3 separate regions of the Homo sapiens genome follow, and all the other regions are linked to region 3. Evidence: fine-mapped expression QTL. A gene starts in region 3. Each other region holds a variant in brackets. All regions are shown on one strand. Distances are between the middles of the regions.

Region 1 (10,888 bases), 54 kb after region 3:
GTAAGATTAATCAAGCATTCTTTGTATGCTCATTTATATTATATATTAAATTCCATATTGATAGAAACTCTTTTTTCTTATCTAGGTATTATTTTGCCACATTTTATAAAAATGCTTCTCATGACAAAATTTTGAGTTACATTTCTTTTTGTTGGGAATGAACTAAAATTACAACTGAATATTAATGTCTGGAATATAGCTTTATTCCTATTATTTTCCTCTTTCTGTATAATTTGGCAGACAAAGAACCAGTGAAATTTTAGAATAGTTTAAATAAATCTCTGTAGGCATAGAACACATTTTCATAAAGAGGCTCATGGTCAACAAAGATAAAATCAAATCATGACTTAGAAATAAAACTAAACTTCAAAGGTAAAGTATTTGTTGGTTTTATATTAGATATACTGATATTTTATTACAATTCCTAACCTCACAGATCCCCCATTTCTTCCTCTTTCTCTCCCCACCCTTGTCACCCTCCTTCCACTGTAAAGGAAGAACCAATGGCTTCCAGGTTATCAGGAAACAGGGCTGCTTGTGTACTATTCACGATGCAGTTAGCACCCCAGGGTTAAGTAGGAAAAAAAGAAAAACATGAACGGCATGCCTCTTTCCCTTGCTTCTACTTATCTTTTTCTGCATGTGGAATTTCCCTTGATTTTACCAGTGATATTTGGATTACTTTTCTGTGCCTCCATTTTTTTAGTTGTAGAATGAAAATAATAATATGATAAAGTGTACCTATTAACTTCATTCCTATAAATACACATACACTATATGTGTGTATGTGTGTGTGTGTGTGTGTATAATTTCTATCTTTTTGCATGTTACCATGAAGACATTTCAGTGACTACCAGGCTATTCAGTGGCTTTGTTTTGTGTTCTCTCTATAGATCCTCGGTTGGTTTGTACAGATTTCTCTAGGACTAAAACATATTCATGACAGGAAGATATTACACAGGGACATAAAAGCTCAGGTAACAGCTCAGAGAGAAGACTAAGACAGAACTGATCTTTTCTTGAAGTACCTCAAACAACATGACATTTTCTCCATTTATAGAACATTTTTCTTAGCAAGAACGGAATGGTGGCAAAGCTTGGGGACTTTGGTATAGCAAGAGTCCTGAATAAGTAAGTACTTTGAAAATAATTTTTCTTTCTAGTCAAAATAGCCCAAATATGTATTTTTAGATATCATGGATTAAGAAGATATTAAAATCTTGGTTGTCTAAATAATTTTAGGTAGCTTTATGTAAATGCATTACATCAGATGGTACTTTGAGATTAAAATTCTCAAGATAAATTGTGGTGTAATAGAATGATGTTGCTAATATTCTGTAGTGTGATTCCAGTTTCTCAAATATGGATGTGACTGTAATATGCATAAAGCTAGAGAGAATTTCGTGAAATAGGCAGGTTTACACTTCTTAATGAAAAAAGTCAAACTCTATAAAATATTTGAAGAGATTTATTCTGAGCCAAATACGAGTGACCAAAGGTCCATGCCTGTGACATAGCCCTCAGGAGATCCTAAGAACATGTACCCAAGGTGGCCGGTCTACAACCTGGTTTTGTACATTTTAGGGAGATGCAAGACATCAATTAGATGTACATGGGTTTGGTCCAGAAAAGCAGGACAACTCAAAGCTGGGAAGAATGGGAGGGAGCTTCCAGGTCATAGGTAGATTAAAAACTTTTCTGATTGGCAATTGATTGAAAGAGTCTATCTGAAGACCTGGAATTAGTGGAAGGGAGTGTCTGGGTTAAGATAAGGGGTTGTGGAAATGAAGGTTTTTATTATGCAGATGAAATCTCCAAGTAGCAGGCCTCAGAGAGAATAGATTGTAAATATTTCCTCTTATCGGATTTAAAAAGGTGCCAGACTCTTAGTTAACTTTTTCCTGGATCAGGAAAAAGCCTTGGAAAAAGAAGGGAATTTTCTTCAGAATGTAGATTTTCCCCACAAGAGATACCTTTGCAGGACTATTTCAAGATATGGACAAAGAAACATGATTTGGGGTAAAATATTTTGATTCCTTTCAGGCCTGCTATCTGTCATGTGATGTTATACTAGAGTCAGGCTGGACTTTGGTATCTTATTGCTACAAGGAGTCTGCTTTGTCAGTCTTAAGGTCTGTTTTAATGTTAATGCTGGTCAACTGTGCCTGAATTCCAAAGGGGAGGAGGAGTTAATGAGGCATATCAGACCCTGCTTCCCATCATGGCCTGAACTAGTTTTTCAGGTTAACTTTGGAATGTCCTTGGCCAAAGGGAGGGTTTATGAGTTGGTTGGGGGGCTTAGAATTTTATTTTTGGTTTACACACTTTCTAGCAAAATAAATTTGTGCACCTGTTTGGAAGACAATTTGGTGGCAATATGTACCAAGAGATTTTTAAATATCCTGTTTCTGGGACTTCTTCCAAGGGAATAATTTGAAATTTGGAATAACGTAAATGCCTAAATAATTGGGAAATGGTTAAATTTAATAAAGCTTGGCATGGCCATGGCCATGTACCTGAATATATCATAAACATTTATGGTTTTGAAGACTTCTTGATAACTTTGTTATACTAAGCAAAGAAAATGGAATTCTGAATTTTAAATACATTGTGATCACGGTTATATGAAAAATATGTGTGGAAAGAAGACAGGAAGGAAATATATCAGAATTTTAACAATAGTTGTTTTAGGTGCTAAGATTCTGGGTAACTTTTTTCTCCCTTATTCATTTTTGTATTTTCCAAGTTTTAAATCATGAGGTTGCAATTTGATAATCTCTACATCTGAGAGATTTTTATAACATGACAATTTCATCTCTTTGTGGAGTCTTTAAGCCATAAAAAATATATTTTAATGTGTAAATTTTTGGGAGGTGAATTGTAAGTTTAAAAATCAGCTGATTTAGTTACTTTATCAACATACAGTGTTTTGCTTTCTTCTAACACATGTATGCATCAAATCTTGTGTTATCCATTTTCACATTTTTTCTTGCATGTCCATGTCTTAAGACTTTTCTTACTCCAATAAAAAATCATGCTGATTTATTATTTAATATAATTTACTAGTTCCATGGAACTTGCTCGAACTTGTATTGGAACACCTTACTACCTGTCCCCAGAGATCTGTCAGAATAAACCCTACAACAATAAAACGTAAGTTGCTGACTCTTAGTTTGAAAGTGTCAGTAAAATCTGATGGATGACACTGAATGAAGATTCCAGAAACTAAAATTCAAATCTCTTCTTTCTTTCTTATGGTACTTTTGTAATTTCATTTGCTTCATGTGTGAAATTGTTCTGGACCAAACTGAGGGTTGGGTTGCTATTTCTCGCGGTCCAATACGAGATGCAGATGAACTGGGGAGGAAGAGAGTTTTTATTTCTGTAACCAGTACAGGGAGAAGGCCTGGAAATTATCACCAGACCGACTCAAAATTACAAAGTTTTTCAGAGCTTATACACCTTCTAAGCTATATGTCTATGTGTAAGTGTGCATTCATTTAAAGACATACTGATTAACTCCTTTTAATCTATAACTAAGGTCTGAGTCCTGAAGACTTTCTTCTGGAGCCTCAGTAAGCTTACTTAATCTAAATGGGTCTAGGTCCTGGGGTGATTACCCTTATTTTGTCTCCTGCTAAATCATGGAGGTTTAGGGAGTTCCTGCAGACCTCCAATAAACTTGTTTGTGGAGGCCTGGGGAGTTTCTTCAGACCACCAATAAAACTTGTTTAATCTTAAAAGGCTCCTTGTTAAGAATTCCTTCATTATTTTGTCATGGTTTAAGGCCCAGGAAAGGCCTAGGCAAAACTCTTGGTGGGCTTTTGTTACATTACAGCCTTTGTATAAGGGCACTGGCTTTTTTTTTTTTATTTTTTGAGATAGAGTCTTGCTCTTGTCACCCAGGCTAGAGTGCAATGGCACGATCTCGGCTCACTGCAACCTCCACCTCCCAGGTTCAAGCGATTCTCCTGCCTCAGCCTCCTGAGTATCTGGGATTACAGGTGGCTGCCACCATGCCCAGCTAAAGTTTTGTGTTTTTAGTAGAGATGGAGTTTCACCATGTTGTCCAGGCTGGTCTCAAACTCCTGACCTCACGATCTGCCTGCCTCAGCCTCCCAAAGTGTTGAGATTACAGGTGTGAGCCACTGTGCCTGGCTGGGCACTGGCTTTTTTAGCTTTTAATATTTAACTTCACCACTCAGTATAGAAACAGTTGTGATGGAGGCCTGCATTGGTAAGACCTGGCCTGCCACAAAATGGGGATCCCAGTGACTATCTCTGAGCAGTGTTACCTGAAGGTTTCAAACTTGTTTAGAAGAAAGCCATTTCTCTTCATTTAAAGATACAAGTGGTATAAAAAATAACATCGAAAATTGCAGTCACTGTGATGTCCATTTTTGTATTATATGTTCATATCTTTGAAGCACTGTTTAGTCTATTGCAAGAAAGATTGAAGAGGATGAAGTAGAAGACAATGTGGTCTGGTGACCGCTCACTGGATTAGGAGCTAGGAATCCTAGTCTTGGCTCAGTTGCTAACTTGACCAAGTCAGTTGACCTCTGTGGGCTTCAGTTCCCTAACTCATAATAATGAGAGTATTGACTAGGTAATCTTCAAGGTGTCTTCCAGCTTTAAAACCCAGTTAGTTTTTATGTATGTGATATCAGAGTCTGGTTCTCAGCAATAATTTTTTTTTTTTTTGAGATGGAGTCTGGCTCTGTCATCCAGGCTGGAGTGCAGTGGTGTGATCTCGGCTCACTGCAATCTCTGCCTCCCAGGTTCAAGCAATTCTCGTGCCTCAGTCTCCCAAGTACCTGGGACTGCAAGCACGCCCCACCATGCCCAGCTAATATTTTGTATTTTTAGTAGAGATGGGGTTTCACCATGTTGGTCGGGCTGGTCTTGAATTCTTGACCTCAGGTGATCTGCCCGCCTCAGCCTCTCAAAGTGCTGGGATTGCAGGTGTGAGCCACCGCACCTGGCCCTCAGCAGTAATGCTAATGTATACTGCAAGAAAAGGTGAAGAGGAGCTTTTGCTTCCTATAAGGAGAAGGAAAAAAATTTCATTTTTCAAAGCTGGCTGCCATTGAACAAGTTGGCGATAAGGAAGATTGAGTTCCCTTTGGAAGTTAATTGTCCTTTTGTTTAGGAAAAAATGCCCAAGAGATACTTGGCTATTGGACTTTGAAGGAGATAAATGGAAGGCAAAGCTCAGACAATAGAGATTTACAAAAAGAATAGTAAGAATTTCTCTGCATAATAAAATAACAGGGATTTTTTTTTTTTTTGAGACATCCCCTGGCACCAAGGAGTTTGGCCTCAAGTTAGTTGTGCAGGAATTCAGGTAGGGTGTGTTGGACGGAAAGTAGGCTGTTCAGAGCAGGGCATGCCACAGACAGCCTTGGGTCAGCTGCATTGTTTTGTTTGCTTGTACTGCTTTTCAAGAATTTGAATCAACATTTAAATGCTGCTGGATATGGTGGCTCATGCCTATAATCCCAGCACTTTGGGAGGCTGAGGGGGATGATTGCTTGAGTCCAGGGGTTCAAGACCAACCTGGACAACATTGTGAGACCCTGTCACTACATCCAAAAAAAAATTAAATATTGAAAGACTTTAAAATATGCATAGTTTGTACCTCTGAAAATTGGAAGATCTTAGCAATAATCAGGTGGGTAGCC[G/A]CTGGCTCCATTAGAGGACTGGTTCACCACAGTCCTCAATATGCAGAGTGGTCTCAGGCCTGCAACTGGCCCCACCCAACCCCCAGGTGGCTGCAGTACTGCCTGAGCCCTGGGGGCATATGAATTCTCTGCCCTGGCTGCAGAGGGTCCTCTGGGAACAGAAGAGAAGTTTGGGTCTGTGGAAGCCCTAGTAAAGACAAAAGTCTGTGTGGTGTGAAATGGTCAGTGAGTTTCTAGAAGGTCTAGAAAGTTCATGTTTGTTTCCTGGGTCAGGTGCAGGCGGCTCACACCTGTAATCCCAGCACTTTGGGAGGCCAAGAAGGGAGTATTGCTTGAGCTCAAGAGTTTGAGACCAGCCTGAGCAACATGGTGAAACCTTGTTAATGAAAAAAAAAATTATTAAAAAAAATCCCACAAATTTGTTTCCCACCAATCTTACCGTCTATTGTACTTACTACCATCTTTTGTACTCAAACTTTTAGTATGAGTCTATCTCTCTCTCCTTCTCTCTGACACACACACACACACACACACACACACACACACACTCATGCACAAAGCATTGCTGCTAGAGGAGCCATTTACCTCACTCCTCACTTTAATGATTCCTTCTTGCTTTGACTCCTTGACTTCTGATTAGACATTTTTTGATCTTTTAGATTTAATTGTGCTTTTTGTTCTATAAAATAACTCCTCAAACCAATCACATATAAATATTTATGAAGTACTAAATCTGTAAGGAGCAAAGCTCATGATATATATTTTAAGTATATTTTTAAATGTTTATTGAGAATCAGATACTATGTTTATCACATAATATAACTTTGGTTCTGTCAAAAGCCTTGAGTAGGATATATCTTTCAAAATCAACCAAATATTACCTTTTGAGTCAAAACAAATCCATGTTTGAGTTCTGCCTGCCTCCTCCAAATTGCTCAACATTTCATCATACATACATTGTTTTTGAGCAGGAAGCTGAACTAAATATTAAGCCACCAGGTTGTAGCAAAGTTTGTGTGCCTTTCTTTGACTAGAAATCTGACAAACTACAAATGGTTTTCATTTTACCTCTTATCTTCTAATAAGAATTGATGATATATCTGAAAGCATTTGTAAAAGCTGATCAACTTACATAAAATTGTAAAGCGACACAAATTTAAGGCACTGTAAGGATAAAAGCTTTTATTAAGAATTATGGATATTTTCTTGGCATGTAAACTCTTATCTTCTTTAGGGATATTTGGTCTCTTGGCTGTGTCTTATATGAGCTCTGCACACTTAAACATCCTGTAAGTATGCTCATTGTCAGACTAATCTTGAATTATTGGAATTGTAGAAAAGAAATTAACTTCTGGGAGAAAAAGGTTAATGTTTGGTTTTATTAGATTGTTAAAAATTATATGGATAAGCTACTTAAAATAATGATAGATGACATGGAAAGCTGTCCAAGCAATATTATAAAGTAAAAAGTCCAAGTTGGAGAATAGTATGTGTAGCATATTTCCATTAAAAATAAATTGTGTGGGCTTGGCGTGGTGGCTCATGCCTGTAATCCCAGCACTTTGGGAGGCTGAGGCGGGTGGATCACTTGAGGTCAGGAGTTGGAGACCAACCTGGCCAACATGATGGTGACACCCCGTCTCTACTAAAAATACAAAAATTAGCCAGGCATGGTGGCATGTGCCTGCAGTCCCAGCTAGTTGGGAGGCTGAGGCACGAGAATTGCTAGAACCCAGGAGGCAGAGGCTGCAGTCAGCTGAGATTGCGCCACTGCACTCCAGCCTGGGTGACAGCGAGACTCCATCTAAAAAAAATAATTAATTAATTAATTACTGTATGAATAGATACGTTCAGCAAAAGAAAAATGTACATGGGCAAAGTTCATAGGAAACCAGGCACAAGCTTTTAAGAGTCTTTTCCCAGAGGTCACATGGGATGTGCCAAATCCTCCAGCATTGTTACCCACGTCACCTGTGAAATGTGATCTATAAGAAAGCTCATCGGATATACCCAGTGCCCAGGATTTTTACTGGGGACTGGTCACATAGGCACCCTCTACCTGGCATATGCCAAACTTCCAGACTCCTGGAAAGAAAGCCCGTGTTCAGCATAAACCATTTTGTTCACATAAATAGCTGAGGCAAAGATAGCCACTCTTGACATTCAGGGAATGGTGGGAATTCTTCTGAAATCTTAGTTCCCAGACACCAGCCACGGGCCAACATTGTAAGCAGGCCTTTCTGAGGAGAGCTTGCTACATCAACTCTTTTCTCCACAGCTGTCATCATTGTTATTAATTATTGTCAAGGGTTGCACAGCCAGTGTCTGACCAAAATGTGTACTCCATTGTTTTTTTGAGATGGAGTCCCGCTCTGTTGCCCAGACTGGAGTGCGGTGGCACGATCTCAGCTCACTGCAACCTCTGACTCCTGGGTACAAGCAATTCTCTTGCCTCAGCCTCCCGAGGAGCTGGGATTACAGGCACCCACCACCACACCCGGCTAATTTTTTTGTATTTTTAGTAGAGTCAGGGTTTTGCCATGTTGGCCAGGTTGGTCTTGAACTCCTGACCTTGGGTGATCTGCCCACCTTGGCCTCCCAGAGTGCTGGGATTACAGGCGTGAGCCACCATGCCCGGCCAATGTGTACCTTTATTGCTACACCATGGAGTTGAATATTATTATGTATAAATAACTATTGGTTTCATACAATAGAAGATTTCTGGTCTATGAAGCATTTTAGAGGAAATTAAACGATGTTTATGTTAATTTTAAAAAGCAAGAGATAAAATTTCATATCAATATGACCTCAACTTTGTAAAATAAACATCATTTTTAAAAGAGATCAGAAGGAGCTATACCTCTGAGTGGTAAAATTATACATATTTTCCCCTGTCTTTATAACTTCCTATACCTTCCAGTTTTTTTATTATGAGTAAACATTATTTTGATAATAAGACAGAATTAAAACAAAATAAAAACTTGTTTTAAATAACATGGCATCTTGTTGAATAACTGCAGTATCTGCTCATGAAAGATTAGTTGATGAAAACAATTTAAGGTGGACCACAGTGCTTCTTTTTTATTTTTTGATTGAGACAGGGTCTCACTCTGTCACCCAGGCTGGAGTGCAGTGACGCAATCACGGCTTACTGCAGCTTTGACCGCCTGGGCTTAGACAATCCTCTTGCCTCAGCCTCCCAAGTAGCTGGGACCACAGGCTCATGCCACCAAGCCCAGCAAATGTTTAAAAACCATGATTTGGAGAGATGAGGTCTAACTATGTTTCCCAGGCTGGTCTTGAACTCCTGGGCTCAAGTGATCCTCCTGCCTTGGCCTCCCAAATTGCTGGGATTACAGGTGACCCTAGTGCTTCTAACTACAATTTAAAAACATTGTTTTGCTTCTTGGTATATTTGTTACTTTAACACTTTTATTATTTGTTACTTTAGTAACTTTTCTCTGATTTAGTGTCATTTCTCCTTGTCCTTTCAGTTTGAGGGTAACAACTTACAGCAGCTGGTTCTGAAGATTTGTCAAGCACATTTTGCCCCAATATCTCCGGGGTTTTCTCGTGAGCTCCATTCCTTGATATCTCAGCTCTTTCAAGTATCTCCTCGAGACCGACCATCCATAAATTCCATTTTGAAAAGGCCCTTTTTAGAGAATCTTATTCCCAAATATTTGACTCCTGAGGTAAGTTTTGAGGTGACTGTTTGGATTTTGGCAGAGATTTTGGGTTGCAGGTCCTTGACACGTGTGTTCGGTTTTAGGTCATTCAGGAAGAATTCAGTCACATGCTTATATGCAGAGCAGGAGCGCCAGCTTCTCGACATGCTGGGAAGGTGGTCCAGAGTAAGTGTGACTTTGGCATGCAATCAAAAGTATTTATTACACATGTCTCACACAGAGAGTAATGCAAGGAAATTTCACCAAACATATTGAAAGTGGACATTTTAAAAAATACAAGCAGTATAAGCAGGAGAAAAATCATCTTGTCAAATGGCAACTAGTGAGTGTGCCTGAAAGTTGTATATCTAGCTCATGCATGACCTGCAGGGTTCCTTCTCGTTAGTCAGGAAACCTCCATGAAGCAGAGGACATGCTAATAGAGATGCTTGAAGAGGTTGAGCCCAAACTTAACTTTTGTGTAGTGAAGGGACAGAGTGGGAGAAGGTTGCAGATAGACATGGATGATGAGATGAAACTTATTTTTCTAAAAGAGGATAGACTGGCAATTAAGAATTCTGTTGCAAAGGACCATTGGAGCTGAAGTTAGGATCTTGGGGCCTAATTGATAACAGTAAGAACTGTTACTTTGTGGTTCCCAAAGAAGGCAGGAGATATTTTATGGTAGTAATAAATACAGAAAACTTTTTTTTTTTTCCGAGACGGAGTCTCGCTCTGTCGCCCAGGCTGGAGTGCAATGGCGCGATCTCTGCTCACTGCAAACTCCACCTCCCGGGTTCATGCCATTCTCCTGCCTCAGCCTCCCGAGTAGCTGGGACTACAGCCGCCCATCACCACTCCCGGCTAATTTTTTGTATTTTTTTAGTAGAGACGAGGTTTCACTGTGTTAGCTAGGATGGTCTCGATCTCCGGACCTCGTGATCCGCCCGCCTCTGCCTCCCAAAGTGCTGGGATTACAGGCGTGAGCCACCGCGCCAGGCCGGAGAAAACTATTTTAGTCCTGGTGTCAAGAATCAGCTAAGCTGTGTGTCAGAGGGAGGGGTACGTTAAGAAAGAGAAAATTACTAATTCATTTGATGCTGTGAAAGTCAAAGCCCCAGAATTTAGCTGTAACTGAATGCCTGGACTTACAATATCAGGAGGAGCAGAAAGCCTCTCAAAGGAATCCATGACAGGGAAATGTTATCCATTGAGACAGAGATTCTAAAATCAAGGAAAGTTAAAGAGAAAGTGAATGAGCCTCTTTGCCATTTAATTTGACTAACATTGTTGTATACCAGTCTAGATTGAGAATGTTTAGAAAATAGACAAGTACAGAGTATGGGACTGTGTATTGTCCATATTTCTAATCTAGGTAAGATAGGAGAACAAGAACAATTTTTTTTTTATTGAGATGGGGTCTCACTGTGTTGCCCAGGCTGGTCTCGAACTCCTGAGCTCAAACAATCCTCCTACCTTGGCCTCCCAAATTGCTGGGATTACAGGTGCGAGCCACCTTACTCAGCCCAAGAACAA
Region 2 (10,888 bases), 540 kb before region 3:
GTTCATTAAAGGCATGGAGAAACTTCAGGATATCGTTTTAAAAGACAAAACAACTTTCTAGTCAGTGACAGGTGAGGTAGGTGTAGATTCCTTGGTGTCAAAAGGAATTATGAATGACAGCAGTGAACATGAATTATGAATGACAGGGTAAACAAGATCAAACCCTTTACAGATTACACCTTCCTGTAGCAGTGAAAAATTCAGAATCTTATTTAAAAATAACATGCATGCTATGACCTTCCCACTATGCAGTTATCACAAATAATTATCTTTTATTTCACAGCAGCAGGAAGGGGAAAGCATGACATTCGACCCTAGACTGGATCACGAAGGAATCTGTTGTATAGAATGTAGGCGGAGCTACACCCACTGCCAGAAGATCTGTGAACCCCTGGGGGGCTATTACCCATGGCCTTATAATTATCAAGGCTGCCGTTCGGCCTGCAGAGTCATCATGCCATGTAGCTGGTGGGTGGCCCGTATCTTGGGCATGGTGTGAAATCACTTCATATATCATGTGCTGTAAAATAAGAACTAGCTGAAGAGACAACCAAAGAAGCATTAAGGCAGGTTGATGCTGATAGGACCACAAAATATTTTTACACTCAACCTGAGCGGTTATTCTTGACACTCTTAACAGAATTTTTTCAATTGTTTTCCAGAACTTTAGTATATGCAAATGTACTGAAAGGGTAGTTCAAGTCTAAAATGCCATAACCCCTTTATTATTTGTTATTTTTTATTTGCATTGCTTTGCCATAAGTCTTCCCTTGCTTGTATCTTCCAAAGCTATTTTGAAATAAACATGAAAATTTACAGTTTGCCAAAAATCTCAATTGTACACTTGAGCTCCTTTTAATTAAGTCATGATGAAAATAAGTCATTGTTATTTGTACAGAATTCCTCAACTGTTCTTAATCTTTTTTGTCCCCAGAATTCCCAGATAAAAACACACAGAAAAAGGAAAGGATATATAATGGAATCTACCTAAAAGTGAACATTTTTAGCCTCAATCTGGAAGCTCATGGGGAATTATTTGAGTGCACTGGCATGTGACCTGTGTTAAGAGTCACCTCCAGGGAAACAGCACTAGGATAAAGAAAAATGCAGTCGAAGATAAATCAGACTTGTGGGGAGGAAGGACTTTATTGACATTCTGAAAAGCAGGTCTTCACACCTTTCTCAATCTGTTTTCAGTAAGTGGTCACTGGGCATGAAGAAGCATAATGATTTTTACCTTTGTAGTACAAATCAGGCTGCGGCTGTAGTCCAATTACCAATAAGTTACTCTCCTAGTTACAGGGCTGACAGTGTTGCTTGGCAGATACAGCTGAGGAGGAATAGCTTATTTATGTATAATGACATAAAGTCTCTCAGGAACAAGGACTGTCTTTAGAAATTGAAATATTAGATCAAGAGGATGAGCAGGTATTTTATATTTTTGACATTTCAGTTTTGCATCCCACCGTTTGATAGATAAACAACTTTCCTAAGGAAAATAGAAGTTTTCCAAAACACAGATTCTGAGACGACAGAAAGGTCTTGATGCCATGATCTCACTACACTCTCATATTCAGAATATACCTTATTATTGTGTATTCCACAGTAAATCCCTAATACTGGTGTTTTCCAATTAAAGTCTATAAAAATGATACAGAATTTTAAAAACCTGGTTTTCAGGTGAACACTCAGATCCCTCCATTTAATGAAATACACAGCAAGCCTAGGTCTCTGGAGAAAAGAGACGAAGGAAAGGCACCGTAATGACATGTAATGGTCACACTGTTCTCAGGAAGCAGCTACTTCCTGCAGTTATGAATTCCACGTTTAGTCTTTAAAACTGCTGTTACTCTATTAACGAAAGAAATATGCGTCAATGGTTCTGCATATCATCTCCCACCCCCATGGCTCAGCAACCTGTACTGGGTTCTAAAAATAAAGAGAATGATTTAGTGATCCCAGCCCAGAAGAGCATATGGTCTTATGAGAGATACAGATAATCAAGGCACACCAGACAAAGCCTTGATAAAGATGGAAGCAATGGGCTTCTTGGAGAATGTCTACTCTCTAGATTTTCAAGGATGAGCAGGAATTAGCCAAGTGAAGGTGACAGAAGATTTGCATTCCAGGCAGAGGGAGTTTGAGTAAGACCAGAGGTGTGAAGTGAAGCTGCATGGTACAAGCAGGAAAACAGCATTCAGGTCGGGGTAGGAAATATCAAGATGAAAATGTAGGCAGAAGCTTTAAGTGGCATGTTAATCTGGGGAGTGTGTGTGTGTGTGTGTGTGTGTCTGTGTGTGTGTAGGAAATAGGAAATGAAAAGTTGCAGGCAAGGAGGGAGCTGGTTAAGTTTTCACCTTAGATGAATCCCCCTTGGTAGCTTCCCATGTGAAAACTGAGCAGGTGCCATACAGGCCAAAGAGGCATCTTAATAAGGACAGCAGGTCATAAGGGAAGGCTGACTTTTGAAAAGATGCTCCCTTTCAAAGCTTCATAATTAGATGAAAATATAGGAGGTGCGTAATTTACTTCTAACAGGCCAAGGGATTATGTTGTGTTATGAAACGTCACTAAATACCCAAGGACATCAATTTAACAGAAAAAATCAGGATGATTTAATAACAGAGGAAAAATTCAAGGTTGGATTAAGGATAGGAATGACAAAGGAGACTTAAATTGTATTCAAGGATGAAAATAAGGGTCTACTTTGAAAGAGAAGTGGACAGATGAGCATTCAATAAAGGAAGAGAGGGCAACAGGGAAGAATTACAAATTTCTTCACAACTTGGTACTACTAATTTCTCAAATTACTTTTAACCAGGCCAGTCTAAAAGTTGCAAATACAGCCCAGTTTGCTGTGCTGAATCTTGACTGAAATGTTAGTATGTGTGTATAGACTTATGTGTATTATTGGTACTTCATTAGATACTCATTTAATTCTCAGTAGTGGTACAAACCAATCCTGATGGAACATCTCAAGTTAGATTTCAAGGTCCTAGTTTGACTCGGAATGGAAGGAAATATGTGACAGCTGCCATTTAGTCAGCACATGGAAAATGTTTTCATTTTCTGGCTGCAAAAACTTGTGTGTTTTTACACCTCCCCTTCCACCAGCACCTCAAATAACTGTGACACTAAAAAAGTAGATATAATACTAAGAATAACCACTTAACCCACTCAACAGTTTCTTACATCAGATTTTATTATACTGAAATACAAGCTACATTTTTACAAAATAGAAATTCTTTGTGAGTGGATTGACTTAATTTTATTTCTGTATAAGCTAAATATGTTGATCTGTTTTATGAACATGTATTTTATAAAAATGGTCACAATATATTTTTTAAGTTAACTGATTTATTGAGGGAGGAGGAGAGAGTTGACCAAAGTCTACATGCATAGACAGTCCTAAAAGCGTATCTCAAACATGAAGATGTAAATTTGAGAGTTAATGATACAAATTTCAGCAAAAACATTTTACAGGCAGAGAGTGTTTTGGTGTTTATAAAAGCTGAACTCCTTTTGAAGGGCTTTTGTACAAATACACATGCTCATATACTATATGCATATATAGGTGTACTTCATTTTGAGAAAGTCCAGTATAATACTAGCATCAAATTTACAAAACAGGTTTAGTGTTGACTGACTGAAGAACTCACTACAGGTTTTACTTCAACTGCTTACATTCAAAAGTATTCAATTTACAAATTTTAGGTACTTACTGTGTAAGGTAAGTACATCTATACATAAATACTTTTATGCAGGTATAATATAAACATAGCAAATAGCTGAGGCTATTTTCTAAGGTGTTTGGCTTAGTGAACCTTTTTTACATCTTTATAGTTTTAAAGTCAAATACATAGCAGTCTTTATTTGGGTGTATGTTATCACAGAGGAATAAAAATCAGTAATGGGACTGGGAACAGTATACCCACTAAGTTAAATTAAGTCATTGGTTAAAACACCAAATTATTCAAAACCATTTAAGAGATATGCCCCACTAAATTCCCTCTGAATTTAGTCATTTACAGATGTTGTGTTTCGTATTCCTGTTCTCACCTTTGTGCCTGCTCCTTTGCAAACATTCTTTTCACACCAAATTCTTAGAACTGAATCAGAACTGCAGAAAATCCAACACCTTTTCTCTCCTCTGCACATGGCTACAAAAATTCTAATAGTAACAAGATAGTGTGAAAGACATACCTCTATATACTTTTTACTAGCATTGCATTTGCAAACTTACTTGAAATTACTTTTTTAAAAAAACAGGATTTCTATGGCGTCCTGTCCTTCAGGGTTCCTTCTAAGGTATGAATTGCTAAGAATTTTCTTTTCAGCTGCCTATATTTCATCAGCCTTGATAATTAATCATCTTTTATACTAAATTTGCCATATACTGACAAAGTCAAAGACCTGTAATAAACTAGACAAGCAAAAACTTTCTCTTAGCGGGACTAATGCTGTTAAAGGCAAATGGTTTCCTTTCCATTAAAACCATATTCCTGCCTGTTAAGTTACTGAGGTAACTCCAAAAAATTAAGCAGTAAAAAAGATCTCCATGGGATGTGCCCTAACACAAATTCTACTCGGCCTACTCAACCAGCACCGTAATTTTTAACATTCACTTAGCACCTATGGGTAATTAAACAGGCATCATCGGAGAATATTCCAGTTGCTAAATGGTACCCCATTATTAATTAGTACTATGCCATGGCTCTCTCTGAGTATTTCTCTGCTCAGTTCTAGTAATATCTTAGCAGTGATAAAAGTGTTTTGCCCAAATAGTTATTCTCATTTTGTTTCACTTTGATTGAAACAAACATTTGATTTTCTTTCATCATGTGCTGTCATACGGTGATATGGATTCAATAACTTAATCATAATGACCCCCCAAGATTAAGAAGAAAAAAAGCATCATTCAGCATCTCTCCTCTACCTTTTAATTTCTGTGTTAAGAGGGAAACAAAACCTTCAAAGGAGCAAGCCAAGTAGCTTTTCCTCTTCTCTAAACTTTACTGGAAATAAGGCATTAGAGGTGATTAGTGCTAATCTCACTTCTGTTCTCTCCTTTACTCCTTGACATCACTGTGTTCTACATGCAGTCCTCCAGGTCACCTGCTTCAAAACCATCAGTTCATTCAAAACAAAGATTTACTGGACCCTCTCTCAAAGGTACTGATTCAAAATCTCAGGAGGAAAGTAATGAAGGTCTACATTTTTAAAAATAAGCTTCCCAAGTGAAGGTTACTCACCAATAAGCTTAAGAACCACTACCCTATATATCATACAAAATAGCTGCCCAATGTTATAATTTTAGTTGTCCGATATCAGAATGTCAGCAGAGGATTAGGGCAAATCAGCTAAGCATGGTGGCTCACGCCTGTAATCCCAGCACTTTGGGAAGCCAAGGCAAGAGGATTACTTGAGGCCAGGAGTTAAGAGAGCAGCCCGGGCAACACAGCAAGACCCTGTCTCTACAAAAAAAATTTAAAAATTAGCTTAGTGCACTAGTAGTGCAGTCCCAGCTACCTGAGAGGCTGAGGCAGGAGGATCACTTGACTCCAGGAGTTGGAGGTTACAGTGAGCTATTGTGTGCCTGGACAGCAGAGCAAAACCCTGTCTCTTAAAAAAAAAAAAAAAAAAAAGATTAGGATAAATAAGTTTTAAGAGAGAGTCTATCACCAACGATCTGAGTGAGTTACATTAAAAACCTGTATGAAGAAAAAAGTATATGAGATGACAGCACTCTGGAAAAAGTGCATCTGTAAAACCAAACGTTTGGACTACATAGTATTTAAGATCCATTCCAGCTCCAAAATCCTGACTTCGTTTTTGTCTCCTCATACTGACAGTGGATGAAATGCAAATACATGTTTGCATTCCAGGGAATAAGAGGTTCCAAAGCTACCTCTAGTCTTGTCAGATGGCCCATAAAAACATGCTCTGTTGATCTGATTTTAACAACTCTAAAATAAAATCCTATGCTACACATATTCCTAAGTCCCTGTTCACAACCGGTCATTCTCCAATCTTGCCTTGGTACTTATTCTGCTGTAACTGTACTTATATTCCAGAACAAGAAATAGCTTTGCTAAACAA[A/C]GATTAGACTAACATATGCTATTACCTATAGTTTAATGTGTTAAGGAATAAACGGCAGACATAAGTTGAGTATTCAGGCTGAGGGCTTCTTTCCACCACCACAAGCTAAGCTCCATGAAGGCAGGGAATTTTGTTTACCTAGTACCTAGCACCTAGCTCAGTGTCTGATGCGTATTTGGCAATCAATGAATATTTGCTAAGTGCATAAATGAATGAGTGGATGTCATGAACCAAGTTCTTTTTCAGATACCTATATTATTCTACTACATACCTTAAAGTAAAGGCTCACTCAAAGAAAAAGTGTATGGCTTTTGACTGCAAAGACTTGAAGGGCCTCAACGGTGTTGATACTGTTTAAAAATAAAGTATACAACCCTCATCAAAGAGGGTTTTCTAGTACTCAGTATCTCAAAATTTCTTCAGGGATTCCAGAAAAAAAATGGACACGTGAGCAATTCAAACTTTTGTCTCCAAGAAGATTGGTATGCTTATAAATTGACTCACTCTTTGTTTCCATATTGCTACATATGCTCAAACCTAATTCCACTCCTGGCTTTTAAGATCTGGCCTCTCCTGTACTCTCCCCAAGACATTTGGGCTCATAATTTTGTATGAATGGAGGGCTAACCTAGTTAGAAAGTAAACTTCAGTCCGTTCAATTAAAACACAAAACAAAACAAAACAAAAAACAGCCGGGCACAGTGGCTTACGCCTATAATCCCAACACTTTGGGAGGCCAAGGTGGGAGGACTGCTTGAACCCAGGAGTTTGAGAGACCAACCTGGGCAATGCAGGGAGACCCCATCTCTACACAAAATTTAAAAATTAGCTGGGAGTGGTGGCACACACCTGTAGTCCCAGCTACTCAGGAGGCTGAGGAAGGAGGATTGCTTGAGCCCAGAAGACGGAGGCTGCAGTGAGCTGCGACCATGCCATTACATTCCAGCCTGGGCAAGAGCAAGACCTTATCTAAAAAAATAAAAAATAAAAATAAATAAATAAAATAAATAAAATAAATCAGGACACCCCTCCAAAAAATGGTATCTCAAAATTAAATAGCAAAAAAAAAAAAAAAAAAAAGTACTTGGATATCACACTGGTTTTGATTAGTTATATAACTGTTACTACCTCTAACAATGTAGTTAAAATTAGCTCTCGTGGCTGTGGGTTAAAAACCTACTTAAAAATTAAAATCCTGTCAGAAACGGTGGTGCACGCCTAGTCTCAGCTACTCAGGAGGCTGAAGTGAGAAGATCACTCGAGCCCTGGACTTTGAGGCTGTAACACACAATTATCACGCCTGTGAACAGCCACTGCACTCCAGCCTGAGCACCACAGCAAGACCTCATCTTTTTGAAAACAAATTACTATTCTATTTACATTGACAAATAAATGATCAACTTTAAGGGCTTGACATTTTTAAAAAACCCCAATTTTAAACACTATGGTTTGGGATGAGTAACTTCCAATATTTGAGTACATACTATGTGAAAGGCACTACGCTATGTATCAAAGATCCAAAGCTTAAGTAAATAACACTAACTGACCAAGACACACAAGGTAAAACAGACACAGCCGCAACTAACCCTATAACATGTGACACCATGAAGGTGTCATAAATAGAGGCATAAACAAGGCACTCCCACATCACAACTAGAGTGGCAATGCATTTCAGTAGAGGGCATGGAGAGGGGAGTTCCACAAGAGTACTGACATTTTAATTGAGATCTCATAGAATGAATGGAAGAAAATAAGGGCATTCTGTGCAGTGATAAGACCATGAGCAAATCCATCCAATTCTGGGAGCCTGTTCTCTATGTACCAGGTGCTACACATACAAAGATGGAAGCTAGACCGCGCCCTCAAGAAACTCAGTCACACGGGGGAAGAAATGAACCAACTGTAATGTACTGGTCTGACAAACAAGGAATAGATTAGCACTCTCAAGCATGCTCATGACATGTTGTGGTTTTGGTATGACTCCATCAAAGGATCCAGTGATGTCTCAACCATAAGCAAATAACCCAATCCAATGCCACAAAAGTCAGTAACAGAGTTGCAAAAGATTAGACTGCTTTCCTGGAGGTAGCATACAAACTCAGTTTTGACACATCAGTAGGAAACTGGAGATGCCCAGGAGGGGCAGAAAAAGGAATGAAAATACACGACATATTCAGAAACAGCAGATGTCTGAACACTAAAAACAAAGAATATGCAATAGACTGTAAGTGCCCTTTGCAGAAAAAGTTTGACCATGACTAGAAGATTCTTGTGTGTCTGGGAGCTTTAGTACACAGCAAAGCAGTGACAAGAGATGTGGCCAAAAATTTTGGCTGGGGTTGAATTCTGAAAACTCTTGAATAGCAGGTAAATGCCAGACTCACCCTCCTTTGAAGAATTTCAACACTAAACAGGACTGAGGGGAAAAAATAAATCAAGGACTTTACATTTAAGTAGCATTTATTGGTAACATAATTTGAGTCAGGACTTAGTTATTAAATCCTCACAATCCTGAGGGTTAATTATCATCCAGTGTTATAAAAAAGAAAAAAGTTCAGATAAGTCACTTGCCCTCAAAACACACAATTATGAAAGTATCAGAACTGGGATTTTAAGAGTCTAGATTCATAAGTTACTACTCCTTCCATTACAAAACAACACCTGTCTCTGTGGTGAAGTATAATTTTTTAAAGTCAATTGTTTTGAAATAGCAAAATAATAACAATAATAAAGGAAATGCACTCAATTTCTTAAGCATGTTTCATCCCCCACTGGATATATATCCTCAGCCTAAGCTCATTACTTATGAATGTGTTCACTTTCAGTCACTTCAAGCCACAGAAAAAGTTTAGAAAACAGATAATCAGTAAAAAGTGGTAGTTGTGAGAACTCCCAGCTGACAGTGAGCCCATATTAATGTCTACACACTTGTATATGCTCCACACTGATTCATTTGGGGCAAGAATAATAAGATTGATGAATTAACTCATAAAAACATCTACCAGCAGGCTGGGCATGGTGGCTCACGCCTGTAATCCCAGCACTTTGGGAGGCCGAGGCGGGCGGGTCACAAGATCAGGAGATGAGACCATCCTGGCTAACACGGTGAAACTCTTGTCTCTACTAAAAATACAAAAAATTAGCCGGGCATGGTGGCGGACGCCTGTAGTCCCAGCTACTTGGGAGGCTGAGGCATGAGAATGGCGTGAACCGGGAGGCGGAGCTTGCAGTGAGCCAAAATGGCGCCACTGCACTCCAGCCTGGGCGACAGAGCAAGACTCCGTCTCAAAAACAAAAACAAAAACAAACACAAACAAATATCAGCTTCTTTTCACTGATGGGAATAACAAGACAATCTGTGGTTTATAAACTGCGTGATTTTGTACCTTGTATTTTTCACAAATCCTAATAGTTTTACCTTCTGTTTTGAGCTTTGAAATTGAAATGAAAACCAGAGAACTTCCGAAAGTTCCTTAACATTCTACATCTAGTTTATATTTTCTGCCACTATTTTATTTTACGATTCTTTATAAAGTGCTGACAATACTTACATAATTAAGCTCTGTTTAAGTAAAATTATTAAAAACTTTTCATGAATTCTTATGCTCTCCAAAGTACAAATTTTATAAATTACAGTAACAATTGTTAACTAGGTGATATACTTTCCTCAGACAGAATTCCACATCTTGAAAGACTGAACTTACAACACAAAAAAATCTTCTCTAGGATTTCCACCTTCCAGCCTAGGATCATCTGATGTTATCTGTCACATGAAGCACTGCTCTTTGCACTTCACACACATAGATACACAATTCCAAAACCCTCAGATGAGTTTTTGAAGTCAGAATTTTGGATTTTAGAAGATAATGCAATACAGATAGACTATTAATAGTTCCCCTTTATCCATGGTTTTGCTTTCCACAATTTCAGTGACCCACAGTCAACTGCTGTCCAAAAATAACTGTTCACATAAGTTTTATTGCGGTATATTGTATATTCTATTATTAATATCTTACTGTGCCTAATTTATAAACTTTATCATAAGTATACATGTATAAAAAATGTACATACAGCATTCAGTACTGGGGGTCTTGGAATGTATCTGCCACAGTTAAGGGGCAACTGCTGTATTTTGTAACAATTTCAGCAGGATCAGTGCTAGCATTCTATAATTAAACATTTAATATTTCTGCTGCAAAATGTGACTATTCATATTATAAATTCAGGTCACGTTTTATATCACTTGTCATACAGATGCACATGCACACACACACACACACACAAAACATTAGTATTTTGAGCCTTCTGGATTAAGATACCTGTGGAGTTACATGAATTCATTCAACTAAGACCATGAGGCATGAGGGGGATCCTATTATCTCCTTTACATAGACACAAAAACTGAGGCACAGAGACATTAAGCACCTATATCCATTGTCACACAGCTAGTAAGCAATGTAGCCAGGATGATCCCAAACAGGATGGCTTCAGAGTCCATGCATTTAACCACTATGCAATACTGTCTTTTCATGTACTTAACAAAAGCTCTAAATATATATTAATAGTATGCGCAATTGTTTATTATTTAGATCTTCTGTGGCTGCATTATAGGGTACAGTTTTTTAAAAAACCCTATATAGGTATTAAGGACCATTTTCCTAACTCCTTCTAAAGAAACTGAAAATTACCTTTAGGTAAATAGCAGTGTTTCTGAAACATCTTTTTGTATAACTGAATCCTTTAATCATAGGAAAAAATAAAGTCAATGATATAGGTAGAAGTCTCAATG
Region 3 (10,888 bases):
TCTAACATGTTCACTATCTACCTAGCCCACTTTTCTGGAGCTCTAAGAATAAAATCTCTGGGCTGGGCGCGGTGGCTCACGCCTGTAATCCTGGCACTTTGGGAGGCCGACGCAGGCGGATCACCAGAGGTCAGGAGTTTGAGACCAGCCTGGCCAATATGGTGAAACCCGGCCTCTACTAAAAATACAAAAACCAGCCAGGCTTGGTGGCTGGCGCCTGTAATCCCAGCTATTTGGGAGGTTGAGGCAGGAGAATTGCTTGAACCTGGGAGGCGGAAGTTGCAGTGAGCCAAGACTGTGCTACTGCACTCCAGCCTGGGTGACAGAGCAAGACTGTCTCAAAAAATAAATTAAAAAAATAAAATCTCTGTATTTCAAAGTTAAGCTAATTTGGTTTCTGCCTCTGAGAAAAAGGAAGATGCCTCAAGCATTGTCTTTGGTGGATATGTGGGAAACTTCATTAGAAATAATCTAGTCTTCACCATTGTGTTCCTAGGTCCTAGCCCTTGTGGCTGCCATAGAGTAGCAGCTCAATAAAATTTGTTCAATAAATGACCAGCTATTCAAAAGCTTTCCAGAAACGGGAACACAAACTTCTACAAGAAACAAAAGGCATGCTGGCATTAGATTGATCATCAGCTGCACTAAAAATGGTGGAATAATAGCTTGAAAGTTCAGGGGGAAAATGATTTTCAACTTGAGACGCCTCTACCCAGTCAAATTACTTGCGAGGGCAATATAAAGACATTGTTACACATGCAAAGACTCAGAAAGCTTACCTGCCAGACACCTTTTCTTAAGGAGGAGTTATTAGAGCAGGTACTCCATCAGTAAAAGAGCAGAGTATCCTGAGGAAGCCATGGGATTCAGGCAGCTGCAGATGTGACTCAGAATGTCAGTTTTGTGGGTGACTAAGCCACCAGTTCATATCTGAGCAAGAACGGGGGATCCAGGAAACAAAGGTATTTCATGGAATATACAGTTGGAAGAACTTGAAGATATACTTCAGGCAAAGAAAAGGAAAATAAGAAAAGTACCTAGAAATTATATTTCCTAAAAGACTCTACAAGAAAATCACAATACAAATATGAGTTAAACTGAGTCATCAGTGGGCTTTCAAAAAAATATTCCAAGAAAATAGAATGGGTAAGATGGCACAGATTTCTTTCAACAACAAAAAAGTACTAGGCAAAGCAACAACAACAAAGTAACCATGATTTTGAGAAACTGAACAGCACAGGGTTGAGACATTGTGATTACACAGGAAAATCAGGCCCAGCAAACTGCTTAGCTCTGCTGTGGACCAACATTTTCATAATGTTAATGCTGCTTATTGGTTATTGTCTATTAGAACCAACTTATAGAAGACTTAGGCCGGGCGTGGTGGCTTATGCCTCTAATCACAGCACTTTGGGAGGCTGAGGCAGGCAGAGGTCAAGACCATCCTGGCCAACATGTTGAAACTCCGTCTCTATTAAAAATACAAAAATTATCTGGGCGTGGTGGTGCACGCCTGCAGTCCCAGCTACGTGGGAGGCTGAGGCAGGAGAATCACTTGCACCCCGAAGGCAGAGGTTGCAGTGAGCTGAGATGGCGCCACTGCACTCCAGCCTGGCGACAGAGCGAGACTCCATCTCAAAAAAAAAAAAAAGAAGACTTAGTTACAGAAGGGAATATAAATGTTATCAGTTGTGGAAATCTAAGAGAGTACAGCTTTGAAAAGTTTGGAGGTACAGAGGTTTGAGGCTGCAATGAGCTATGATTGCACCAGAGGTACTCCAGCCTGGGCAACAGAGGGAGGCCTCATTTCTAAAAAATAAGAAATTTGGAGGTAGAAGCAGAGGTGGGGAGTTCAAGGGAAGTAAGAGTTCTTCCTATCATGAAATGGAGAACCAAGAGGCGCTGTCTGTATTTAATAGAACTAAAAACAACAGTTTAAGGATATTAAAGTTACTAAAGTGAACAATAGGACTAAATCATAGTGTTAACTACCATGTGCACCTTAGGGGGGTGAATTAAGCTGACTTTTTATCAGTCCTTGCAAGAGTCAATAGTGTCACAAAATAGCAGCTTAATCCTATTCATACAGTTGAAGATCATCAGGAGAATTTAAAACCACAAAGGTCAAAGTGGTTGCCCTTTGGAAGTGGGACTGAAGCTGGGGAGATAAAAAGCAAGGAACAATTGCTTTTTGTTCTAGGTCTTCCTCTACTCAACTTTTTTTTTCCCCTTTGACAAAACAAAAACCAAACATAACAATCCTGGTGAGGGTCAGAGATCATCTATTTTAATGCCTGGAAATATATTCGGTGAGTCATCTTGTGGCTCTTAAACCAAACCGAAGTTAAAAAGTATAAGAAAGTCTATATAACTGTAGACTACAAAGCAGTTAATACAGAGTGAAAACTCCCAGTCATCTCAGGAGAAGTGGCGTTTTATTATTTCTGGATATATCCAGAAGCTCTCCTGGCTGGGTATCCACAGCTTGGCAACAGCTGCATAAAAAGGGGGCCAGACCTTCTCTCACCATCCCCTCTCCCTACCCTCACCAGTCTATTCTTACTGACTTACAGGTTGAATTGCATCCCCCACAAAATATACGCTGGAGTCCTAATGTGCAGTACCTCAGAATGTGATCTTATTTGGAAATAGGGTTGTTAAGGATATAATTAGTTAAGATGAGGCCACACTGGGGTAGGATGGTCCCTCAATCTGATATGACTGGTGTCCTTATACAAGGGGAAATTTAGACTCAGAGACAGTACACATAAAGGAAAGGCAATGTGGGGGAGAAGAAGGCCATCTACAAGTCAAGTACAGAAGCCTGGAACAGATCTTTTCGTTCCAGCCCTCAGAAGAAACCAACACTGTCAACACCTTTATTTTGGACCTCTAGCCTCCAGAAGTATGAGATAATAAATTTGATTAAACCATTCATTTAGCTTGTGGGACTCTGTTACAGCAGCCCTGGCAAACTAATACACCGATGGAACAAGGGAAAGAATCCCTTTCATGACTGCCATCATTGGGTGGGAAAGAAAAGCATTAAGCACCTTTGTCATCTTCTCCCCTGATGCTGTCACAAATTTAATCTGATAGAAATCTGTCTTTTGCTCAGTTCTCAAGAGCAGCATTCTGAGTACAGGCATGGGCAGTATTTTTTTTTTTTTTTTTTTAGACAGAGTTTCGCTCTATCACCCAGGCTGGAGTGCAGTGGCACGATCTTGGTTCACTGCAACCTCCGCCTCCCAGGTTCAAATGATTCTTATGCCTCAGCCTCCCGAGTAGTTGGGGTTACAGGCGCCACCCACCATGCCCAGCTAATTTTTGTATTTTTAGTAGAGACAGGGTTTCACCATGTAGGCCAGGCTGGTCACGAACTCCTGACCTCAGGTGATCTGCCTACCTCGGCCTCCCAAAGTGCTGGGATTACAGGCCTGAGCCATCGTGCCTGGCCTTCTTTGTTTTTAATTGAAACTAGTCTTTGTATAGAGTACAAAGAAAGCAGTGCAGATGTTGTAAATGTTGATTTGTAGCATTTCCCTTCTCTTATCACCACACTACAGAATAGTTGTACATTAACTTTGACATTGTGGAAGGAAGGCAATTGGAGCTGGCCAGAGCAAAGCCATTTTGTTCCTGAATGCCATTTTACAACTGCCTGACTGCAGAATGTACTTGCTGATGTTGCAGACAAAATTGCTGCCATTATGAAAAGGACTTCATGCTGAGGACTGAACTTTTCTCAAACCCCTGAATCAAGGACTTTTGCCTAGAAACCAATGAACTGTCATGATAACGCTTTATCTTCAATCAAAATAGTGGGTTACGAAGGTTATGGATGAACTAGTGAGAACTGACTTCTTACTTCCTTTAAAAACCCTACCCAAAAATAGCTGGTCAGGACACAATTCAAATGCTTCTGGAATCTGTGTTCCTTGAACTGCAATTCTCAGACTGCCAATAAACTTCTTTACTTGGATTTCGGTCTCTCTGACTCTGGTTGACACGTTATAATGAACACGTTCAGCGCTTACAAGTAAAGGGTAACCAGATGTTGTTCACAGTAATCCTATGAGGTAGGTTCTATACTTTTATACAGAGGGATTTAGTTACTCTGCTGTATTAGTTTCCTAAGGCTTCTGTAACAAACTGTGACAACCTAAGTGGCTAAAACGACACGAATTTATTACCTTACAGTTCTGAAGTTCAGAAATACAGCTCACTGGGTTAAAATCAAGGCGTCAGTGTGCATGGTGGTTTTCCTGTAGTCCCAGCCACTCAGGAGGCTGAGGTGGGCGGATCGCTTGAGCCCGGGAGCTCAAAACCAGTCTTGGCAACATAGCAAGACCCTGTTTCAAAAAACAAAAAAATCAAGGGGTCAGCTGGACTGTTACTTCTGGAAGCTCTGGGGAACAATTTGGTTTTTGTTTTTTGTTTTTCCCTCCTTTTCTAGCTTCTCCTCCTTTTCCACCTCCCACCTCCTCCTTTATATATATATATATATATATATATATATTTTTTTTTTTTTTTGGAGACAGGTTCTTGCTCTGTCACCAAAGCTGGACTGCAGTGGTGGGATCATGAGCCCTCTCCAGCTCTAGTGATCCTCCTGCCCCAATCCCCCGAGCAGCTGGGACCACAGTGCCCGTCGCTATGTCTAGTTAATTTTTCGTAGAGACGAGTGTCTCACTATGTTGCCCAGGCTGATCTCGAACTCCTGGGCTAAAGTGTTCCTCTCCTGCCTCTGCCTTCCAAAGCACTGGGATTGCAAACATGAGACACTGTGCCTGCTCCTCTTCCAGCTTCTTGAGGCCAGCTGCATTCCTTGGCTGTTGCCCCTTCCTCCACCTTCAAATAGCTTTCTCATACTGACCTTCTTTTTGGGCCCCTTCCACTTTAGAGAACCCTTGTAATTACTTTGTAATTACCCAAGCACACACTCCAAGATCGTCACCTTATTTTAAAGTCCGCTGATAAGCAACCTTAATTCCATCTGCAATCTTAACCCCCTCTGCCAAGCAAGAGAACAAACGCACAGGTTCCAGGGAGTAGGATGTGGACATCCTGAGGCGGAAGCATTATCCCGCCTTCCACAATTGCCCAAGGTCACATAGCTAGTAAGTTCTAGCTAGCACTGAGTGCTGTGCCCGTGAAATTTATCTACATAGGCTTTCACTTAACCTGCAGACAGAACTCAGTTAGTCGGGGACAATTTCCCTCAATGTTAACAGCACTGTTCCACCGCAACGTGGAACAACAGCTTTAAAACGTGCTCTTCGTAGGCCCGGCTACTCCAAGAACAGTGCCTCCCGCCAGACCCAGGCGGCTTCCTTCACCCGCAACCCGAGAGACGACCCGCCGGGCCCGCCCCGCGGAAGCCGCCGGTTGCCAGGCCAAGGAGTGGACTAGGGTCGCCGGGGAAGCGGGTGAGTGGTCCCCGCCCTGGCGGGCTGCCTCTAGAACGAGGAGGGCGGCGCGTGGTCGCGGCGCGGAGCCGAGTGGGAGCGAGGGGTAGACGCGCCCCGGACGCGCGGCCGCGCCCCTCACTTCCGCCCCGCGGTCTGGACCACTCGCCGCAAACCCGCAAGTCCCTCGCCGCCTTGGGGTCTGGGCGCGCGGTGCCGTGGGGGTCAGCAGGGCGGAGCGGCTTTTCCAGGAGAAAGGGCCCTCACGGGTGAGCGGGGCGACTGGGCTCCCCCGCGGTGCAGTTGCCCCGCGGGCGCCGGCCCCGGCTCAACGGATTCTTCTCGCTCGCTGCCCGGAAAGAACCAGTGAGAACCGCTGTTGCAGCAAAAAAAGAAGTTAATAAGCGCAGGGCTGGCCAAACCAGAACAGGGTCTCAGACCTGTCTCCCCGAGAATTCGGGGGCGAGGGTTTTAAAGGGCATTTTGGCTTCGGGGGGCTGGGGAACTGAAACAGTTGACCGGCTGGGGATGAAATCACAAGAGCTTCTGAAACTCGGGGCGGCTTCGTTGGTTCCCAGGAAGGGGTGGGGTCAGTTTCCCTTGTCTTGAAGTTTACACGAAATCCCTCTCCCAGTTATCCTAGCCTCTGTGCTAGAATAAGAAAACGACAACACGGTGAAAACTTAGCCCGTGAGGTTAGAAGCAAGATGGAGTCAGTCATGTTAGATTTCTCGCATTACTTATACATCTGTAAAGGTGGTTTCAGGGACCTTTCTGAACTTAGCCCGTATCTCACTGGTGATCCCACTTCTGGGTATTTGCAAATCACTTTATTAGGTTTTTAAAAGTATTGTTGCAGGCATGCGAAGGGGCCGATATACTTTTGCCATGTCCAGAGTGTATTCAGGTCTTGTAATGATCATATGGGTGTAATATTGAGTAACAGGCAAATGTGGGCAGAAAATATCAAATGTGGTTTTCAGCTAAGAAGTCTGGTTGCTCTTAATTTTCAGTTACTCTCCATTGCATAGAATAAAGCCCCGAAGAAACGAAGAATAAGATCATGGGGAAACTTGGCTTCCATGTTAAACCGTGTAATACCAGGTGTTAGAATAGTAGTAAAGGACTTGTTTCTTTCACATCTATATACACTCAAAAGACCTCATCGATCTTGGAAAAACATTGTTTCGAAGACAATGTGTATGACTGATTTGGTTATATGAAGAAATTATTTCTAGGATTTCCTGGTAATTCTGTGATAAACAGTAATACAAACTGGAATTTTTACAGGTCACTATAGTAGAGGTTTTAGTTTGATTTTTGCTTTGCCTGTCATGCTCTCTCTGCCTTATAATTCTTTGTGGTGTAATTAAAAAACGAACACTAGGGCCGGACGGGGTGGCTCACGCCTGTAATCCCAGCACTTTGGGAGGCCGAGGCGGGCGGATCATCTGAGGTCGGGAGTTCGAGCCCAGCCTGACCAACATGGAGAAACCGCGTCTCTACTAAAAATACAAAATTAGCCGGGCGTGGTGGCGCATGCCTGTAATCCCAGCTACTCGGGAGGCTGAGGCAGGAGAATCACTTGAACCTGGGAGGTGGAGGTTGCGGTGAGCCGAGATCGCACCATTGCACTCCAGCCTGGGCAACAGGAGCGAGACTCCGTCTCAAAATAAAAAACAAACACTGTAAGCTTTTTGAAAAATCAAGTAAATTCATTACAGTGTTTTTCCTGCAATGAAAAAGAATGCATCACTTCCCTAAGGTTTTAATAATCATAATAGCTGCCAGTTATTCAGGACCTTGTATGTACCAGGCAAAGTGTTAGGAACGTTTTATCCATTTTCTCTTATGTGCTAAGCAGTCCCGCTAGCTGCTTCATCCTGGAAATATAGATGGGAGACTGAAGTCAAGGACTCCAACTGTGTGTTTAACATCTCTCTTGACTCCCAGGAACCTCCAGTTTGGCATGTCCAAAATGAAACACATGTCTGTCTTCTATCAATATGTTTTGCCCAACCCCTGCAACACTCCCACTTCCAGAAAAATCACACAAACAAAAAACCACACACACAACCATTGTGCCTTTCCTCTCTCAGGGAGTGCCAAGAAACCATCTGGTTCATGCCAGAAACTTGGGAGTCAACCTTGCCCCCTTCTCTGCTTGCCCCCCATAAATCTGCCACCACAAATCCTGTCAACTGTTCTTACATCTTTCCTTCCCATTTTTTCTGACCCCATTGCCTCCACTCTATTCCATTTCATTATTTTCCTGCCTTTTCTATTGTTGGAGCCTCCTAACTGGCCTGTGTCTCTGAGCTGGCCTTCCTGCCCCTCCTCCACTGGTCCATTTAATCTGCAATCTGAGTGAATGTTTTTTCTAATATGCAAATATGATTATATTGCCTTCTTGGTTAAAATGCTTCAGCAGCTTGTTACATTCTTCTTTCAATTTCTTGAACTGAATGTAATTTCTTTAGCTCTTAAATATGCAATTTCCTCTTCCTTGATTACTCTTTTCCTCCTCTTTGTCTAGCCAAGTTTCATTCATCCTTCAGGCTTCAGCTTAAATAGCCTACATTTGTTGAGGTTTATGGTTATCTCTGCATGGGATGTCCACGTTGGCAGGGACTATGAGAGATTTTTCAGATTATAACATCTGACTCAGAGTTGGTGCTCAGTGTCTGCCTGTTGTATGTAGTATAGGGGAGGAAAAACATTTTTTCTCTGCCCTCTTAGGTTCAGTAGCTGGGCCCTGCAAAATAAACTGATGAAAGATAGATTAACAGGAAAAAAGGTTTATGCATAAATGTAAAGAAGTGGTTAGACCAGGGGGCTCATATGCCATTTTAACAAAGAGTGATAAATTATAGAGAAGTAACTAGACAAAAGTAGGGGAATGCTTCTTGGGTAAATTGTAGGAAGGTAAATATATGGCGGAAGCTAACATAAGATAAGGGTTATTCAGTAAAGTTTGTTATGTGGACTCAAGTTGGTGCCTTCCCCATTGGTAAGAGTTGCTCTCCTCTTCCTGGTACTGGAAAGGAAGACACATTTACAAATGGATATTTATTACCTGTACATAGGAAAATTTATGCCCTGCATTTATACAAAAAAGGGAGGGCAAAGAGCAAATTGGTTTCAGCTCAAAACAATTCTTACATGAAAGTGGCATATTTTGGGGTAGCATACACTGATCCTCTTCAAAAGGAATAATTTGCTTTTCTCTTATCATGGTTATGAGAGCTACTTTGAATTAATTTTTGCTTTTTGAAAGTACATTTAATTCTCAAATGTTTCTGCTTTTGAATGCAGTTTGGGAGAGCCCATGGTGACTGCGTGAGTGGAGCCCAGCTGTGTGGATGCCCCAGCATGGATGACTACATGGTCCTGAGAATGATTGGGGAGGGCTCCTTCGGCAGAGCTCTTTTGGTTCAGCATGAAAGCAGTAATCAGATGTTTGCCATGAAAGAAATAAGGCTTCCCAAGGTCACTACTAAAGAAATTAGCTCACTTTGAAAGTATACATGCAGTTTATATAAAAGAATAAGTTTTTGGCCAGGCACAGTGGCTCACACCTGTAATCCCAGCACTTTGGGAGGTGGAGGCGGGTAGATCACCTGAGGTCAGGAGTTTGAGACCGGCCTGAGGTCAGGAGTTTGAGGCCAGCCTGGCCAACATGGGGAAAACCCGTCTCTAGTAAAAATAATAAAAAAAAAATTAGGCAAGTGTGGTGGCCTGCACCTGTAGTCCCAGCTATTCAGGAGGCAGAGGCAGGAGAATCACCCTAACCTGGGAGGCAGAGGTTGCAGTAAGCTGAGATTGTGCCACTGCACTCCAGCCTTGGTGACAAAATAAGACTCTGTCTCAAAAAATAAATAATAAGTTTTTGAGTTTTAACATGGAATTTCTCCTTCATGCAAAAGATGTAATTGGTTTATTCGTTAGCTTTACAAGGGCTCGATACATTATATGTGGTTCTTAGGATATTGTAATTAACAATGGGAGAAAAACAGTAAAAGTTTTGGTGGTGATTACTGCTAATTTTATTTCAGCAAATAATTGGTAATAACTACCACTTTTGTATACCTAATGGTGCAGGAAATCTTTGCCAGAGCAACTCAGGTGCAATATTAATGAAAAAGGATCATAAAAATACAGTGAAGAATGAATGCTAACCTTTGGTACCAGTAAACCTACTCTGTGGATCAGTTTATAGGTTTTATTTCCTTGTAGACCATTACTATGTATCATAGTTGTCCTATGAAAGAATTCATTACATGAAGACTATGTCATAATATTTTGGATCAATTTTTTAAAAATACATTCTAATAAAGTTCTCAGAGTGCTAGGTATTTTTTTCCCACTGTATTCTTGACTTCGTTCAGTGATTTTCAAACTTGAGTGAGCATCATAATCATCTGGAGGGCTTGTTAAAACATGGACTGCTGTGCTCCACCCCCAGGCTTCCGATTGAGTAGGTCCAGGTGGGCTTGTGAATTTGCATTTTTAACAAGTTCCCAGTTGGTGCTGATGTTGCTGGTCTGAGAACCCTTGTGTTACTATACAATCAATGGCAATTTCTTTTCTTTCTTTTTTAAAATTTATAGATGGGGTCTTGCTCTATTGCCCAGGCTGGAGTGTAGTGGCACAATCGTAGCTCACTGCAGCTCAAACTCCTGGGCTCAAGCGATCTTCCCACCTCACCCTCCCCAGTGGCTGGGACTATACTACATCTATAGTCTACATCTATAGTCCCAGCCACTGGGGAGGGTAGCCACCACACCCAACTAACAATGGCAATTTCTTGATTGTAAGATGAATCATTCAGAATTTCATCCTCATAGAGTAAGTTAGGGATAAATGGTTTTGGAAACTTACTTTGCTTGCCATCTTTGTTCATCCTTGATGCAGTAATATACCAGCATACTCTTTTTTTATCTGGACCAGTGGACTCCTCTAAGTGATGCAGACAGTCAAAACATGAAATCCCTCACTCCCTTTTTTTTTTCTTTTAGGATAAAACATTTCTTTTTCTTTTTTTCTACATCACAAGTCATCAAGCAAAAGATACATTATTTTTGATGGTAAACTGGCTCTCTAAGTCAGGTGATACTTAGGCTGATATTAAAACTATTTACATTCTGTATGTGTAAGGAATGAAAAAAGAAAATAAAAATACAATGAAGGGGTCAGCTCAAGCATGAAAATATAGCCAGAGTTGAAAAATCAACATGCATTTTCTCTTGTCATTTGACAAACTTAAGTTGAGCCACAGTGTGTTATAAAACTGCATCTAGCATTAAAGTGTCATATAAACCATGTTATTGTAAAGTTATGTATTTTAAAATGCAGTATTAAGTTTATGCTTATTTAAAATGTTTTTCTAGTCTTTCTCTAATACACAGAATTCTAGGAAGGAGGCTGTTCTTTTAGCCAAAATGAAACACCCTAATATTGTTGCCTTCAAAGAATCATTT

What was found. PIP is the estimated chance that this variant, and not a neighbour inherited with it, causes the effect.
Region 1: its variant is the best candidate, but not a certain one, in a credible set for the expression of NEK3 in whole blood (TOPMed, PIP 0.62).
Region 2: its variant is the best candidate, but not a certain one, in a credible set for the expression of NEK3 in whole blood (TOPMed, PIP 0.67).

Annotation. Positions count from the first base shown.
Region 1 is chr13:52,100,583-52,111,470 of GRCh38, reverse strand. It overlaps NEK5 (NIMA related kinase 5), which reads left to right. Exons shown (of 24, transcript NM_001365552.1): 6 at 894-977; 7 at 1,061-1,131; 8 at 3,067-3,153; 9 at 6,919-6,973; 10 at 9,179-9,379; 11 at 9,457-9,538. Among named protein-coding and RNA genes, the nearest start is that of NEK5, 23 kb to the left of the region's middle. RefSeq lists an enhancer at 6,504-6,798. The variant G/A (reference allele first, on the strand shown) is at 5,685.
Region 2 is chr13:52,693,206-52,704,093 of GRCh38, reverse strand. SUGT1 (SGT1 assembly cochaperone of MIS12 kinetochore complex) reads right to left here. Exons shown (of 13, transcript NM_006704.5): 13 at 3,185-10,888. It overlaps CNMD (chondromodulin), which reads left to right. Exons shown (of 7, transcript NM_007015.3): 7 at 284-830. The coding sequence ends at 499. Among named protein-coding and RNA genes, the nearest start is that of CNMD, 41 kb to the left of the region's middle. The variant A/C (reference allele first, on the strand shown) is at 6,100.
Region 3 is chr13:52,154,084-52,164,971 of GRCh38, reverse strand. NEK3 (NIMA related kinase 3) reads left to right here and starts at 5,375. Exons shown (of 16, transcript NM_002498.3): 1 at 5,375-5,429; 2 at 8,724-8,897; 3 at 10,799-10,888. The coding sequence starts at 8,781. It overlaps LOC124903176 (a long non-coding RNA gene), which reads right to left and starts at 10,803. Exons shown (of 2, transcript XR_007063806.1): 1 at 10,174-10,803; 2 at 7,626-10,110. RefSeq lists silencers at 3,384-3,678, 5,439-5,498, 5,579-5,688.